2 separate regions of the Homo sapiens genome follow, and region 2 is linked to region 1. Evidence: fine-mapped expression QTL. A gene starts in region 1. The other region holds a variant in brackets. All regions are shown on one strand. Distances are from middle to middle.

Evidence for each region.
Region 2: its variant is fine-mapped to the expression of SF3A3 in whole blood (TOPMed, PIP above 0.99).

Annotation. Positions count from the first base shown.
Region 1 is chr1:37,986,191-37,994,734 of GRCh38, reverse strand. It overlaps SF3A3 (splicing factor 3a subunit 3), which reads left to right and starts at 4,713. Exons shown (of 17, transcript NM_006802.4): 1 at 4,713-4,865; 2 at 5,140-5,187; 3 at 6,899-6,951; 4 at 7,057-7,162. The coding sequence starts at 4,770. It also overlaps the pseudogene RNU6-510P. RefSeq lists enhancers at 3,555-4,100, 4,492-4,661, 5,362-5,461.
Region 2 is chr1:37,951,446-37,959,989 of GRCh38, reverse strand. It overlaps SF3A3 (splicing factor 3a subunit 3), which reads left to right. Exons shown (of 17, transcript NM_006802.4): 17 at 1,727-3,015. The coding sequence ends at 1,804. Among named protein-coding and RNA genes, the nearest start is that of INPP5B, 8.7 kb to the right of the region's middle. The variant G/A (reference allele first, on the strand shown) is at 5,030.

The sequences.
Region 1 (8,544 bases):
AAATACAAAAATTAGCTGGGTGTGGTGGCAGGCATCTGTAATCCCAGCTACTCCGGAGGTTGAGGCAGGAGAATTACTTGAATCCGGAGATGGAAGTTGCAGTGAGCCGAGATAGCACCACTGCAGTCCAGCCTGGGGGACAAGAGCAAAACTCCGTCTTAAAAAAAAAGAAACCCAGACATATAATCAAAGGTGTGTCATTGTTTAATTGACAATTTTTTCTCTCTTCCTTAGTAAAGCATAAAATAATACTGAGTTTTACATTTGATGGCATCTCGTATTCAAGAAATACAGTAGCTCTCCAAGTTTATACCCCCCAAAAAACAAAACAAAACAAAAAACATTTGCTGAGTCTCCCCACTCCCTGAATGGAGATTTCTACTTTACCTCTTTCCTAATGTCCCAGGAAAAGCCCCAGATGAGTTGTGACTGGGTCCTTTCCCTAAGCTTGGCAGTCCTGCTTAAATTTCCGATATACAAATAAGATCCCCATAACACCCTCATGAGTGGGCAAAACACAGGTCACTATTTCCATTTTATATTTATTTATTTATTGAGACAGAGTCTCACTCTATCGCCAGGCTGGAGTGCAGTGGCGCGATCTCGGCTCACTACAACCTCCACCTGCCGGGTTCAAGTGATTCTCCTGCCTCAGCCTCTCAAGTAGCTGGGACTACAGGCGTGCGCCACCATGCCCAGCTAATTTTGTTGTATTTTTAGTAGAGACAGGGGTTTCACCATGTTGGCCAGGATGGTCTTGATCTCTTGACCTCGTGATCTGCCGCCTCGGCCTCCCAAAGTGCTGGGATTACAGGCGTGAGCCACCATGCCCAGCCTCCGTTTTTTCAAACTTTTTTTTTCTTTTTTGAGACAGGGTGTCACCCAGGCTTGAAGATTATAGCTCACTGTAACCTCAAACCCCTGGGCTCAAGTGATCCTCCCGCCTCAGCCTCCCAGGTAGCTGGGAGTACGGGCAAATGCCAGCAAGCCCAGCTAATTTTCTTATTTTTTGTAGAGATGAGGTCTCGCTATGTTGCCCAGACTGTTCTAGAACTCCTGGCTTTAAGCGAAATTCCCAGCTTGGCCTCCCAAAGTGCTGGGATTACAGGCGTGAGCCACTGCACCCAGCCTGCTTTCAAACTTTTAAAAACAAAAAGTAATGCATGTTTACTGTAGAAAAATTGGGCTGGGTGCGGTGGCTCACGCCTATAATCCCAGCACTTTGGGAGGCCAAGGCAGGAGGATTGCTTGAGCTCAGGAGTTGCAGACAAGCCTGGGCACCACTGTGAGACCTCATCTCTAGTAAAAATTTTTAAAAAATTACAGCGGGTCTGGTGGCTCATGCCTATAATCCCAGCATTTTGGGAGGCCAAGGCAGGAAGATCGCTTGAGTCCAGGAGTTTGAGACCAGCCTGGGCAACACGGCAAAAAACCCCATCTCTACAAAAAATACAAAAATTAGCAGGGTGTAGTGGCGCACATCTATAGTCCCAGCTACTCAGGAGGCTGAAGTGGGAGGATAGCTTTAGCCCAGGAGGTCGAGGCTGCAGTGAGCCAAGATTGTGCCACTGTACTCCAGCTTGGCAAGACCCTGTCTCAAAAAAAAAAGAAAAACCTTGGCTTGGTGTGGTAGCTCATGCCTGTAATTCCAGCATTTTGGGAGGCCAAGGTGGGCGGATCACCCTGAGGGCAGGAGTTCAAGACCAGCCTGGCCAACATAGCAAAACCCCATCTCTGCTAAAAATACAAAAATTAGCTGGGCATGGTGCCACGCACCTGTAATCCCAGCTACTAGGGAGACTGAGGCAGAATTGCTTGAACCCAGGAGGTAGAGGTTGCAGTGAGCCAAGATCGTGCCACTGCACTCCAGCTTGGATGACACAGAAAGACCCTGTCTCAAAAAAAAACAAAAAACAAAAAACCTCGCAGTTTTTTGGTGTGCGGTGGCTCACACCTGTAATCCCAGCATTTTGGGAGGCCAAGGCAGGCAGATCACCCGGAGGTCAGGAGTTCAGGACCAGCCTGGCCAACATAGTGAAAGCCCGTCTCTACTAAAAATACAAAAACTAGCCAGGTGTGGTGGCAGTCACCTGTAATCCCAGCTACTCAGGAGGCTGAGGCAGGAGAATCGCTTGAACACAGGAGGTAGAGGTTGCCGTGAGCTGAGATCGCGCCACTGCACTCCAGCCTGGCGACAGAGCGAGACTCCCAAAACAAAACTTTAAATGTGGCTTTTGTTGCGTGGGAAAAAAATAAAAAATTAACCAGGGTGGTGGCACCCACCTGTGGGGGCCACAGGGGTGGAGGCTGCAGTGAGCCATGATTATGCCACTGCACTCCAGCCTGGGGCAACAGAGAGAGACCCTATCAAAAAAAAAAAGAAAAAGAAAAAAAAGAAAAAAGTGAACAATAGGTAAATTACTAATAATGTGATGCATTATGTCCTCCTCGTTCTTTTTTGTTAAACATAAATGTGCACATATGTATTTTCAGTTTTAAATTAATTTTTAAATTGAAAAAGTATGTTTAAGAATAACTTTTTATGCTGTGCTTGGGGTGTATACAAAGAAAAATCTCCCATATCAGATCTCCAAGGCTGTCTGCTCAGGAACAACCACTGTTTACTGTTACTTGGATATCCTTACAGAAATAATCTCTTTGCACATCTATTTTTATACACACTTGTGCATCTAGCTTTTTTCAGTTTGTGTGGCCATCTCTCCATATGAGTTCATACAGAGTTTTTAACAGTTTTATTGAAGTGTAATTTATATACCATAAAATTCACCCATTTTTAACAGTACAAAGCAATTAATTTTAATAAAATGAATAGAGTTATGCAACTATCACCACAATCCAATTTTAGAACATTTCTACCCATCCAAAATGGATTCCTTGTGCGCATTTGTAATCACTTCCAATCTCACCTGCGGTCACAAGCAACCACTCATATTTCTGCCTCCATAGATTTGCCTTTGTTAACTCAATTGTAGCCTAAAGCTGCCTCCTTACATATTTTAAATTTAGCCTAAAGGTTTCTCTGTACATTGTGAACTATAACCTAAATGGAGTTGTAAACAGACCATAGCCTACTCTTTGCCAATCACCGAGTTTTGGCCAATCAAACATGGCAAACTATGCAAACCGTGTTCAAATAAGGCAAAGACCAAGCTGTAATAACCGGTGTTTTTTTTTTTTTTTCTTTTTGCAGGGGCCATGCTAATCTTCTCTGTATGGTTCCAATTTTAGTATATGTGCTGCCATAGCAAGCACCAGTGTTTTTCTTTTAACACCGTTCTGGACGTTTTATCTGGACATACACTGTTGTTTTTCTGTCTAGCTTCTTTCACTTAGCATGATGCTTTCATGGTTCATCATTGTAGTATTCATTTATTGCAGAATAATGTTCCATTGTACTGTATAGATATACCACACTTTATCCATTTGCCAGTTAATGGACTCTTGGGCTGCATCCAGTTTTTGTCTATTATGAATAATGCCGCTGTGAACATATGAACACATGGACATGTTTGCATTTCTCTACCTACAAGTGGAGATATATAGACAGAATTTTTTTTAAGGCTGTATGTCATTTCACAGCTGGTCTTCCACTGCTTGGATGCACAGTATTTTATTTTATTTTATTTTACTTTTTTTTGAGACGGAGTCTCTCTCTGTCGCCCAAGCTGGAATGCAGTGGCATGATCTCAGCTCACTGCAACCTCTGCCTCCTGGGTTCAAGTGATTCTCCTGCCTCAGCCTCCCGAGTAGCTGTGACTACAGGCGCGCGCCACCATGCCCGGCTAATTTTTTGCAGTTTTAGTAGAGACGGGGTTTCACCGTGTTAGACAGGATGGTCTCAATCTCCTGATCTCGTTGGATGCACAGTATTTTATTTAACATATTCGCTGCCGATAGACAAGTCGTTTCTACACGTGAATTTCTTTTTTTTTTTTTTTTTTGAGACTGAGTCTCATTCTGTCGCCCAGGCTGGAGTGCAGTGGCACGATCTCAGCTGACGGCAACCTCTGCTTCCCGGGTTCAAGCGATTCTCCTGCCTCAGCCTCCGGAGTAGCTGGGACTACAGGCGCCTGCCATCACGCCCGGCTAATTTTTGTTTGTTTGTTTTTAGTAGAGACGGGGTTTCACCATGTTAGCCAGCCTGGTCGTCTCGAACCTCTGACCTCAAGTGATCCGCCCGCCTCGGCCTCCCAAAGTGTTGGGATTACAGGCGTGAGCTACCGCGCCCGGCCTCACATGTGAATTTTTTTAAAAACACCACCAGCAAAACCCCACTATTCCCATTTTCCTGAGAAAGACGCTGAGGTCCAGAGAAAGAGAAAACGTTCTCATAATTTATGCTGAAAGCTGCGTCCTCAAGTTCCGGTTTCCCAACTCCCATCCGCACTCCAACTGCTCGCGCAGTCCACACAGGATACCTGCCCGCCAAGCCGGCCCCAGCAAGCCGCAGGAAGCCGTCCGCTGAACCTCAGGTTCTTGGGTTTTCCTATGCCCCCTGGAGGCATCTGCGAACCTCTCGGCATCGCTCCACCACACCTCCCACCAGCAGGTGGCACTGTTGCCATCTCCATAACATGGACTGGCCTTCCTTGTGGTGCTCCTGTTTTCTTAAGTCCCGGGGCACTTCCGGCACTCGCGGAACTTTGGTGCAGCCTGATGCGCAACGTGGGGACTCAGGCGCGCTGGGCGGCAGGAGTTGCTTCCGGCCGTGTTGGTGGTCTGAATTGAGAAGCCGCGACTAAGGGAAGATGGAGACAATACTGGAGCAGCAGCGGCGCTATCATGAGGAGAAGGAACGGCTCATGGACGTCATGGCTAAAGAGATGCTCACCAAGAAGTCCACGGTGAGTGGGGCCTGAGCAGAGGCTGCGGCAGGAGCACGAGCCTCTATCCCGTGTTTGACCTCTGAGAGCTTGCTTTGGCCCTCAGAACCTCCCTGCCTTCCTCCGGGCTCCCTCTCCGAGCTCCGGTCTTGGTAACCTCCTCCCGGGGTCCGGAGCCCCAGAGGCCTTTCTGCCTCAGCTGGTAAAAGCTGAGCGGGTAAGCTCCGCCCTCGGGCGGCCTTTTCTACTCCAGAACGCAAACTAACGGCGTTTGTGTCACCGTTTGTTTTTTCAGCTCCGGGACCAGATCAATTCTGATCACCGCACTCGGGCCATGCAAGATGTGAGTGCCCAGCTGTCTGCCTCTCTTTGGGTTGGCGAGGGCGGGAAAAGAGAGGGGAAGTGAAGTGCGGTGTCTCAGCATGAGTCCCTGGCCAAAGGTAACCGGATTGGCCAGTCGCGGGCTCTCTGCCTGGACAGATGTCCACAGGCTGCCGAACGTGAGGGTGCTTCCTCAGTTCTCTGAATGGGGAACTCTTGGGCATTCTTCATTAATCAGAAAGGTGCCCTTTTTTTTTTTCTTCTTCTTCTTCTTTTGGACGGAGTCTCGCTCTGTTGCCTAGGCTGGAGTGCAGTGGCGCGGTCTCGGCTCACTGCAACCTCCGCCTCCTGGGTTCAAGCGATTCTCCTGCCTCAGCCTCCGGAGTAGTTGGGACTACAGGCGCTCGCCACCACGCTCAGCTAATTTTTGTATTTTTAGTAGAGACGGAGTTTCTACTAAACATGTTGGTCAGGCTGGTCTCGAACTCCTGACCTCGTGATCCACCTACCTCGGCCTCCCAAAGTGCTGAGATTACAGGCTTGAGCCACCGCGGCCGGCTTACACGTGCCCATTCTTACAGCATCCTGTATCCCTTGGATGTGCAAACAATAGTTATGAAGAGTCCATGACTCAGGTGCATAGCTACAATCCTTCCCTTAAATGAAAAAAAAAATATATATATATATATACACACACACACACACACACACAACACACCCCGTATGTTAGTGTTTTTCTCCCAGGATACTACTTTAAAGCGTTTTGGACTACTAAACTGCATTTGTCTGGTAATAGTTCAGTTTATTAAAAGAAAAACAAGATGCTATTTAAACTGGGTGATGAATAAATGGAGGTTCATTTTACTACGTTCCTTACTCTTGTGTATGTTTGAAACCTGTTTAAAAAGGAATAAAAGACCTACTTGGACCTTCTGATTTGCAGGAGATTATCAGATTACAAGCCCTCAGCCCCAAAATACTCTGAAAACCAAGGATTTTCTTTTTTTCCCCTTGGGTGATTATTTGGTGTCAAAATCTGACCTGATCTCACTTGACAGTAAAACCTGGCCCGAACCTGTGATAGGCTTTTTATGGTCTTTAATTTATCCCACTTGGTAAATAAGGTATGAGGTTTACTGCAGAACTGTGTGCTCCAGATTCCACTAGGGATGTTACATAATATATGATACCTCTTTTGAACTTAAACATTCCAAATTCTGAAACAAATCTGGTCCCAAAAGTTTTGGAGGAGGGACTATGTACCTGTACCATCCTGAATTAGTATACTTTGACTACAAAGGAAGCCTATGTAATGTTTATTTAGCCTGCCTACTCCTCAGTCAAGCGTTTTGAAATAGTGAATATCATCTTTATCTTTGAGGATGTTAGGTGGGAACTAGTGTTTGGCCAAAGAGGGTGAGTCTGTTACAGGGGAAGTTAGGCATCGGTGGTATGTAAAGATAGGAGCCACCCCTTAAATGTATCATTTAGGTAATCTTCCAATCGACCTGCTTAAAAAACTAAACAGGAATCAAGGCTGTTAAAGGGCTATTAAAAAACTAACCAGGAATCAGGGCTGTTAAAGGTACTAGGAAGCACAGAACTGTTAAGACTATCTCATATCCATGTCTCTTGAGGTTGCCCTGGGCTTTGACTGGAGAACCCTTGTTGTTTGCTTAGCTCTACAGTTGTGCAAATTGCATCATTCTGATGGTTTTGTATTTGCCTTTCAGAGGTATATGGAGGTCAGTGGGAACCTGAGGGATTTGTATGATGATAAGGATGGGTAAGTGACAGTCACAGCTAATCCAGGAGTTAGTGCTTCTGAGGAGCCATGGTTAGAGGACTGACTTTGTGCTCTATCTTCTTTGAAATTTTCCTGAAATTGCAGATTACGAAAGGAGGAGCTCAATGCCATTTCAGGACCCAATGAGTTTGCTGAATTCTATAATAGACTCAAGCAAATAAAGGAATTCCACCGGAAGCACCCAAATGAGGTATGTCCTCAGAAAAGTATTTTCTCCAGACCTATCCTTAAAGCATACTAAAGGAAAGGTATAAAGGAAACTGGACATGTGCTATTCAAATGCACTTCAAGAAAGAACTTGCCATTTAGCTGCAAGGACCATAGTTAGCTGACATCCTACAATACAGTGTTTTCAGTATCTCCCTCAGCTTTTAAGCCAAGGCCGGCTGGGCACGGTGGCTCACGCCTGTAATCCCAGCACTTTGGGAGGCTGAGGTGGGTGGATCACCTGAGGTCAGGAGTTCAAGACCAGCCTGGCCAACATAGTGAAACTCAACCTCTACTAAAAATACAAAAATTAGCCAGGCATGGTGGCATGTGCCTGTAATCCCAACTACTCAGGAGGCTGAGGCAAGAGAATCACTTGAACCTGGGAGGTGGAGGTTGCAGTGAGCCGAGATTGCGCCATTGCACTCCATCCTGGGGGACAAGAGTGAGACTTTGTCTCAAAAAAAAGAAGTCAAGGCCACATTTTGTGGGCAGCTCCCAGCCAGTGACTGAGCACAGTATGGGTACTAGGGCCCAGCAATTTGGTCCACTCTGAGACTCCTCTGATGAATAATCTTTGCTCCATGGCTCCCCGTTGGGTTGGTCAAGATTTTGTCCAATCTGCATTGTGGTCTAGGCTATCCTGTCCTAATCCTACTTTCTCTTCCTTTTTATCTTTCACAGAAATTACTCTCCCCAATAAATTGTGTTCCTAACTCTGTCTTTTTTTTTTTTTTTTTTTTTGAGATGGAGTCTCGCTCTGTTGCCCAGGCTGGAGTGCAGTGGCATGATCTCGGCTCACTGCAAGCTCCACCTCCCGAGTTCATGCCATTCTCCTTCCTCAGCCTCCTGAGTAGCTGGGACTACAGGTGCCTGCCACCACGCCTGGCTAATTTTATGTATTTTTTAGTTGAGACAGGGTTTCACCATGTTAGCCAGGATAGTCTCTATCTCCTGACCTTGTGATCCGCCCACCTCGGCCTCCCAAAGTGCTGGGATTACAGGCATGAGCCACCGCGCCCGGCCCTCATATGCCCTGGAGCTCACTTATAATAAGGTAAAGAGAAAAAGGGCCTGGGAAGGCTTCCATCAGAAAGGTCACATGACCACTCCAGGTGGTGTTGCCTTACTGAAGTTAAGCAAAAGAGAGTTTCAGAAAGGCAGTCATGGTGTCAACTGTTATTGATTTATATCTGCCAGGATTGCTGCTTCATTAAAGTAGTATGAATGGAAATCTGGTCACAAGGTAAAGATGGGTAATGGGGAAGTAGAAGTATGGAGTATGGAACATGCATTTGAAAGGCTGGTAGCCAGGTGCAGTGACTCACGCCTGTAATCCCAGCACTTTGGGAGGCCGAGGCGGGT
Region 2 (8,544 bases), 35 kb after region 1:
TTGACTTTTCCTTTTTTTTTTTTTTTTTTTTTGACACGGAGTCTCGTACTGTTGCCCGGGCTGGAGTGCAGTGGTGCAATGTCAGCTCACTGCAACTTCCGCCTCCTGGGTTCCAGCAATTCTCCTGCCTCTGTCTCTCGAGTAGCTGAGATTACAGGCGCCCGCCACCACACCCGACTAATTTTTGTATTTTTAGTAGCGACAGGGTTTCACCATGTTGGCCAGACTGGTCTCAAACTCCTCACCTCAGGTGATCCACCCATGCACGCCTGTAGTCCCAGCTACTTGGGAGGCCTAGGCACGAGAATCACTTGAACTGGGGAGGTAGAGGTTGCATGAGCCGAGATTGTGCCACTGCACTCCAGCCTGGGTGACAGAGCAAGACTCTTTCTCAAAAAATAATAATAATAATAATTAGCCAAGTGTGGTGGCGCATGCTAGTAGTCCCAGCTAATTGGGACTGAGGCAGGAGGAACGCTTGAGCCCAGGAATTTGAGGCAGCTGCTGAGCTATGATCATACCACTGCACTCCAGTCTGGGTGACAGAGTAAGACCCTGTCTCTTTAACAACAAAAAGACAGATTGTATTCTGCCATTCAAATTTTGAAATGGGCCAGGTGCAGCAGTTCATGCCCATAATCCCAGCACTTTGGGAGGCCAAAGCAGGCAGATCACTTGAGCCCAGGAATTGGAGACCAGCCTGGGCAACATGGTGAAACCATATCTCTACAAAAAATACAATAATTAGCGGGGAGTGGTGGCACATGCCTGTGGTCCCAGCTGTTCAGGAGGCTGAAGCAGGAGGATTGCTTGAGCCCAGGCTGTCGAGGGTGCAGTGAGCTGTGATCGCACCATTGCACTCCAGCCTGGGTGACAGAGCAAGAACTTACCTCACAAAAAAAAAAAAAAGAAAAAAAAGTTGAAATGGCAAGTGGGAGTACCCAATCTCATGTTCTGCCATGGAGATTTATAGACTAAAATGCCGAGACTCTGTATCATGTATTAGATCTCCTTTGAGGAAAGCATCTAATGAGAGATGATACTCTCATAGCGACAGGGAGATGTCCTTGTTGGTCTTATGATGGTCATCCCAAGCAGCAGGTTTCAGAGATCAAGAATGACATGTATGTAAGGAATGGTACTGACTCACTCCAAGTCCCATAGTAACTGACAATAGCCTCCCTTTTTTTGAGTCAGTGGTTTTCAGTATTTTTTTTCTTTTTGGCAGCAAAACTCTCTTCCACTTGTAATATAGTACTCTGATATATAAAATAGAATCAAGCAGAATTGCCCTGGACATGGGGAAGCTCAGACTTCCTGGCTTCCCTTTCAACCCCTGCAATGGCCTCTGAGCAGAATCCTGGGATTCTTGGGAACCATTTGAAAACTGCTGTTGTAGGTCAGCCTTTCTCAACCAGGGTTCCCCATCTTAAACATAGAGAGCTAAATAAACTATTTTCTCAGATACTCTAATGATGGGTCATGACTGATATCATTCTAGATGTCTACGAGAGAAGTTAATTCATTGCACACGGTGGCTGCTTTGGGGCAGTGGGACTTAATTCTCTTGTGGAACCCCAGTTGAGAAAGGCTTAGATGAATGCCAATCTTAGTGTACCAGAGTATGCCATGGAATCAGGCCAGGATGAGCTCAGGTACTTAGAGATTGGTTCCAAACATTTCTTTTAGGAGAGCTGTCTAACAAAGTGTACCCCTTCCTTTTCAGGAAGAATATGAAGACTCAAGTGGGAATGTTGTGAATAAGAAGACATACGAGGATCTGAAAAGACAAGGACTGCTCTAGTGTTCAGGGATGTAGCTCAGCTTTTGGGCTAGCCCAGGCTTCCCTAAGATCTGCTTTTTCTATTTCTCCCAACCAAATCCTCTTAAAGACCCTTTGCTATGTAGTCTCATGGTCTAGCATGCATCTTGTAGAAACAAGGCATGCTGGCAGATTGCAGGGTTGAGATGTGTTTTATCTGTTTTATATTTTAAAAGATTCTGCCAGAAAATAAAACCAGACCTTGTTCTAAAGCCCAGGGTTATGGACCAACTCAGTGCTTCAGGTCTTAACGCCTCCATACCTCTTCCTCACCAACTTTACTAGTAGCTGAGATTTAATGGGCACCTATTATGCTACATATCATGTTAGGTAAATCTGACCTGACCTCTTTCCCCACCCTCCTTTGTTGCTGCTTCCCTGAATGAGTATTACCCCAGGATGAGGTCTGCCATCAGCTTAGTTAGCCATTGATGCAAATACTAGGGAAAGACTAGGAGGATGAGCCAGGGTTGCTACTAAGGACTAAGTGTCGCACCAAGGTTTGCCTTTTGTATTTGCATAAAGAAAGGAGTTGGAGCTGGGTGCAGTGGCTTGTGCCTGTAGTCCCAGCTACTTGGGAGGCTGAGGCAGGAGGGTTGCTTGAGACTAGCCTAGGTAACATAGTGAGACCCTGTCTCATTAAAAAAAAAAAAAAGGCATGGTGGCACGCACTGTAGTCCCAGCTACTCAGGAGACTGAGGCTAGAAGATCCTTTGAACCTAGGAGTTTGAGACCAGCCTGGGCGATATAGTGAGGCCCCATCTCAAAAAAAAAAAAAGGGGGGGGGGGGGGAGTTGGGCTGTGTTGGAATGGGCCTGCAGCCCAACAAACAAGGGAACTAGGACCGACAGTGACTTCACCAGCTTGCTAGGTCAGAATGAGAGACTGGTGGGTCTGTCTACCTGTTTCTTCTACAAGATCCCTATTTGACTGTAAAAGTAGCTAATACTCACATGTTCTCCAATCCCAGGTAGCCATGGTAGAGTTGGGTAGAGTTGAGCAGCTGCCCCAGGATCCAAATGTGGTGTCTGAAATGGAAAGAACTAAGGCAACCAGGAAGGCACTGATCTGCCTTATAAGCACAGTCATCTGAAAGTCAGGCCTGCTGCAGGACAGGATCCCCCAGAGACCCCATTTGCCTCTCAACACTCAGACCTTCAACTGTTTTTTAATAAATCTACTTTTTAAAAAAATGTTAATCTTTTTCTTTATATTACACATTTATATCTTATTTTTCTAAAAACCTACCAAGAACCAGTGCCGCACTCATCCCATGCAGAGGCAGGCTGGCTAATATATCTACTTTTAAAAATTCCAACTCAGGCCATGCGCAGTAGCTGATGCCTGTAATCCAAACACTTTGGGAGGCCGAGGGCAGCAAATTACTTGAGGTCAGGAGTTGGAGACCAGCCTGGCCAACATGGCGAAACCCTGTCTCTACTAAAAATACAAAAATTAGCCAGGCGTGATGGCATGCACCTGTAGTCCCAGGTACTCAGGAGACTGAGGCAGGAGGATCACTTGAACCCAGGAGGCGAAGGTTGCCATGAGCCGAGATCACGCCACTGCACTCCAGCCTGGGTGACAGCGAGACTCCGTCTCAAAAAAAAAAAAAAAAAAATCCCAACTTGAATTAGCCTTCTGCCTCACACCAATCTTTTGCCCTGGTTATTTCCATGGCAGTAAAGTTTCACCACCCCCACCCCAGTGGCACTGCACTCTAGGTTGGTATTTTCCTTCCTAGTTCAGCCCATCCCTGTGCAACTCATTCCCTTGTGCCTTCACTCCTTCATTTAAGACTCCAGGTCGGGTGCAGTGGCTCATGCCTGTAATCCCAGCACTTTGGGAGGCCGAGGCAGGCGGATCACTTGAGGTCGGGAGTTCAAGACCAGCCTGACCAACATAGAGAAACCCTGTCTCTACTAAAAATACAAAATTAGCCAGGCGTGGTGGCACATGCCTGCGATCCCAGCTACTTGGGAGGCTGAGGCAGGAGAATCACTTGAACCTGGGAGGCGGAGGTTGCAGTGAGCCGAGATCGCGCCATTGCACTCCAGCCTGGGCAACAAGAGTGAAACTCTGTCTCAAAAAAATAAGACTCCAGTTGGACAGCCTCTCCAGGGCCTGAGCTGAAGCAGAGTGAGTGAATAATTAAACCTAATTGAGCCAACTGGAAACACTGATTAGTGGAAACTGGCCCAAAGTGCAAGGAGACATTGCCATTTGAGAAGAGAGTTAAAGCGTTGGAATGGGAAATGTGGGGAGAAGACGGCCCTTCAGACTGCTCGTCAGAACAGGGGCTGCATTGGGCTACCAAGGAATGCACCTGCTACTTTCCAGCTGTTGGAGTCCTCAAAACCCTGTCTTGAGGCTACCTGGGACTCCAGGGTTAATAGGTTCTCCCTCTACAGTGTGGAGAGGAAGTGGGACCAGGTCCTAAGGAGTCCTGCCATCCCCTTGCCCAGTAACTGCAGTCAGTGTGCGAACTCTGTGCCAGAACAACCTTGGAGGGAACCTCGGGCTTACCTGTCACAGCAAAGGCTTGTTCATTTGTTACCTTCATTCATTCAGGGTTTTTTTAGTGCCTTCCATGTGCCAGGCACAGCTAGATCAAACCTTGAAAACTAAAGCGGAGGTGAGACAGTGAGGGCAGAAGCCAGAGGTGAAGAAGCTCAGCAGCAGCCTCTGGGCACGCAGGAAGAGCCATATGGCCAGCTCCATCCAGCTGCAAGGGGCACAGCTGTTTTCTGAGGTGAAGGCAAACCACATCAGAATTGGTTCTCAGAGGTGATCCTTCAGGTTTGGACTCCATAGGGTCAACCAAAGGAAGAGAATTTCAATTGACCACCTGCCTCAGCCTCCCAAAGTGCTGGGATTTCAGTCATGAGCCACTGTGCCCAGCCAAGAATCTTTCTTAGACATGGAGTCGGAACCTTTGCCAATGCACTTACTGCTGGGAACAGTTAATTCAATTAGCTCTTCATGGAGGAAAGCTGCAGGGAGCATTTAGGGAGTTGTTCCTGGGATTGACCCTCAGATTGGTGCTGCTAAACCCAGAGGCTGCACCTGGAATGAGCCCTCCCAGGAGGAGTCTTTACTCTCTACTTCTCAGATGAAAGTGAAGAAATCTGTCTCTGGCTTCAACCAGGTATCCCTTTCTTCTCCATTTTCTGTCCATTTCCCTCCCTGGGGTCAACTTGTGCTGGA[G/A]GGCTCTGTGAAGGGAGCACCCTAAAGGTAACCAATGTGTTGGGGAAGTGAAGTTGTGAGATATTTCTCTCCCTCTGCATTAAAAAAAAAAAAAATCCTTGGGATGATAGCAACCTTTCTCCTCATCCTTCAGGTCCTACTGTCAGCCTCAGCTCAGAGTTCTCAGGGTGGGAATGAACCTGTGACCCTCTCCACCCTCATCCAGAAGAGTCCTCCCATTACAGGTCCACCCTGGGAGGACACTGGTCTCCTCTCCCTCTGATCTCTTCTGAGAGCCCTCTCCACCTGCCAGGTTTCCGATCCAGACAAATAAGGCACCTCCCAGTGGGATGCTGGGACAGCGGTCTTTTGATCTGCTCAAGTGGCTTTATTTTCTCCCTCCAACTACAGTCTGGGCAGCAGCTATGCTTTCTTCTTTTCTGTGGTCCCTGTGTGTCCCTGGTGGCAGCAACATGAGAGGCAAATCCCAGAGGTGACAAGTGATTGGAGGGGAGGAGAAAGGGCAGCTTCCAGTTTCCAGGGGCGGCAGCTGTAGCCTCCCTGCCTTGTGCATGCACACTCACAGCCCTCTGCACCTTCAAGTGTGCAGGTAGGTCTATAGCTGGGATAGGGTGGGGCACAGAGAATATTGAGAATATGCTCTAGCCATGGAGGGGCACACAGACTAAAGGAGATGGACAAGAAGCCTGGATTAATACAGCCTAGGAGGTACCCATCTATCTTTGCCCAGCCTTCTGATTCTGCTCAGTGTCTGTCCACCTGCCCCATCATATTCCTGAGATGTCCCTCCAGCCTCAACTGTGCAAAGTAAGGAGGAGGAAAGGGGCTTCTGTGGGAAGCCTGGGCTCTTCACAAAGCTTCAGGGACCTGGGTAGAACCTTTGAGCCCTTTGAACCTTTGGCCTTTGGAAACCGAAGTCCCCTTGGAGAGGGGCTGACTGTGTAAAAACTTCATTTGGCCGGGCGCGGTGACTCACACCTGTAATCCAAACACTATGGGAGGCCAGGCACGGTGGCTCACACCTGTCATCCAAACACTATGGGAGGCCAAGGCAGGCAGATCATGAGGTCAGGAGATCAAGACCTTTCTGGCCAACATGGTGAAACCCCATCTCTACTAAAAATACAAAAATTAGTCGGGCATGGCAGCACGCACCTGTAGTCCCAGCTACCCGGGAGGCTGAGGCAGGAGAATTGCTTGAACCCGGGAGGCAGAGGCTACAGTGAGCCGAGATCGCACCACTGCACTCCAGCCTGGGCGACAGAGTGAGACTCTGTCTCGCTCTGTCACTTTTTTTTTTTTTTTGTAAGACGGAGTCTCGCTCTGTCGCCCAGGCTGGAGTGCAGTGGTGCAATCTCGGCTCAGGGCAGCCTCTGCCTCCCGGGTTCAAGCAATTCTCCTGCCTCAGCCTCCCGAGTAGTTGGGACTACAGGTGTGCGCTGCCACACCTGGCTAATTTTTTCATGTTTTTGGTAGAGACGGGGTTCCACCATATGGGCCAGGCTGGCCTTGAACTCCTGACCTCATGATCCACCTGCCTTGGCCTCTCAAAGTGCTGAGATTACAGGTGTGAGCCACCGTGCCCGGCCCCAAAAACTTTTTTTTTAACAAGGTCTCACTGTTACCCAGGCTAGAGTGCAGTGGCATGATCATAGCTCACTGCAGCCTCCCAACTCTCAGGCTCAAGTGACCTCCCCACCTCAGCCTCCCAAGTAGCTAGGACTACAGATGCACACCTCCATGCCCAGCTAATTTTTTGTAGAGAAGGGAATCTCACTATCTTGCCCAGGCTGGTCTTGAAATTCTGGCCTGAAGCAGTTCTCCTGCCCCAGCCTCCTGAGTCACTGGGATTATAGGTGTGAGCCACCATGCCCAGCAAGAGAACTGTTTCTTGAGTGTAGTGTTTGTTGGTGGGGGGGACGGATGGGCAACAGAGAGGCTGACACCATCAGAAGGGCCCAACCCAGGAGTCCTTGCTGCACACTCTCCTGTGTATCGCATCACCCTGGCTGCTGTCACTTGAGAGACAAGTCTGAGTGCTGATGGAGGATTACATCCATGAGGGCAGGGAAACAGATGCCCCATTAGCATTGGGAATGGTAGGGTCTGGGTTGTGCTCAGCTTCCAGGGCTGGGCGAGAAGATAGGAATAATGCCCCACTCTCATCTCTAGCAGTTTCCTACCTTGTATGGAAAAACCTAAACCCAGGCTTAGCAGACCTTTCTAGGTGTGGCCCCTTAGTGTTGCAGGGGGCAGAGTCTGGGATCCAGGAACCCAAAGTCTGAGAGCTACCTCCTATCTTTGGCTCAGCACTCATTTAGGGACAGGCTGGGGTCTGAATCCTGAAGAACACTTGGACAAAGTGAGTCTGGACTTTTGACCCTCTGTGGCCTAGGGTTTTCCTGCCCTGGGTTCTGAGGAAGCCCATGACTCCCACCTTCCCACACCCGGGCACCTTCTGACGTTGGCAGCAAATGAGACCAGATCAGAGTCACTGGGTATGTATTTCCTGTCACTGCACCTGCTCCAGTTCTGCCTCCCCTCAGGCTGGGATGCTGCTGTTGCCATGCCAGTGACAAAATGTGTCTCGGGGGGCTGTTACTGGGATGCAGGCCCCTTTGTGCCTGCCCCAGTGTCACTCTGACAGTATGACTTGCAGGAAGCGAAAGCTGAGCCCCTGAGACCTCTTATTCCCTAAAGGTTGACCCACCCCCACCCTAGTTCCCCAGCCTCAATTTATTCATCTGCATAGTACAGTAATGGAAATTTTGCTTGTAGGTTTCCTCAGCTGGCCAGAACTGGTCCTTCCCTCTCTCTGGCTCCTGCAGCACCTCAGTTGAAGATGTATGTGGCCAATGGTAGCCACAGAGCTGCTTTGCTCAGAGGTAGCTGTCCTCAGCCCAGGGATCCTGGCCTTTCCTGGACCATGACTACTGCTGGACCCTGGGACTGCCCCTACTTTTCCCTAAGTTCATGACCTCTTCCACTTAACTGCTGCATGACCTTTCTTTGACCTATGACCTTTGAGCTGGTTATGGCCTTGAACTCCTGACCTCATGATTCACCTGCCTCAGCCTCTGCAGTGGCTCCCTCTCTCCTTTTCCTCCTATCAGTCCTCCTGCTGGCCTTACTGGTAGCCCAGAACCTGGCAAGCAGTCAGTTGACCCCTGCTCCTGTCCAGGTAAGCAGCATATGAGGGAGGGGACAGCCTTCCTAATGCCTTCAGCCCCAGGCGTGTGACCACAGTGGTCAAACCTTTCCGCAGATATGCCACAACTTCCACTGCCTCGGAGAGATGTGCTACCAGGAGGAAAAGTTCTCCAACCAGACCACAGAGTGTTAGCCCGGGCAGCACCACTGCGAGGTGTGGGGCTGGGGCTGTGAGGGACCCAAGCCAGGGTACTTCTCAGAGGTGAAGGAGAGTGGAGGGAGGCCATTGGAAGGGGGATTGACATTCAGGTACAGTAAGGTGCAGGAACAGATCCTGAAGCGGGAGGGAGAGGAGTCAGTATCTG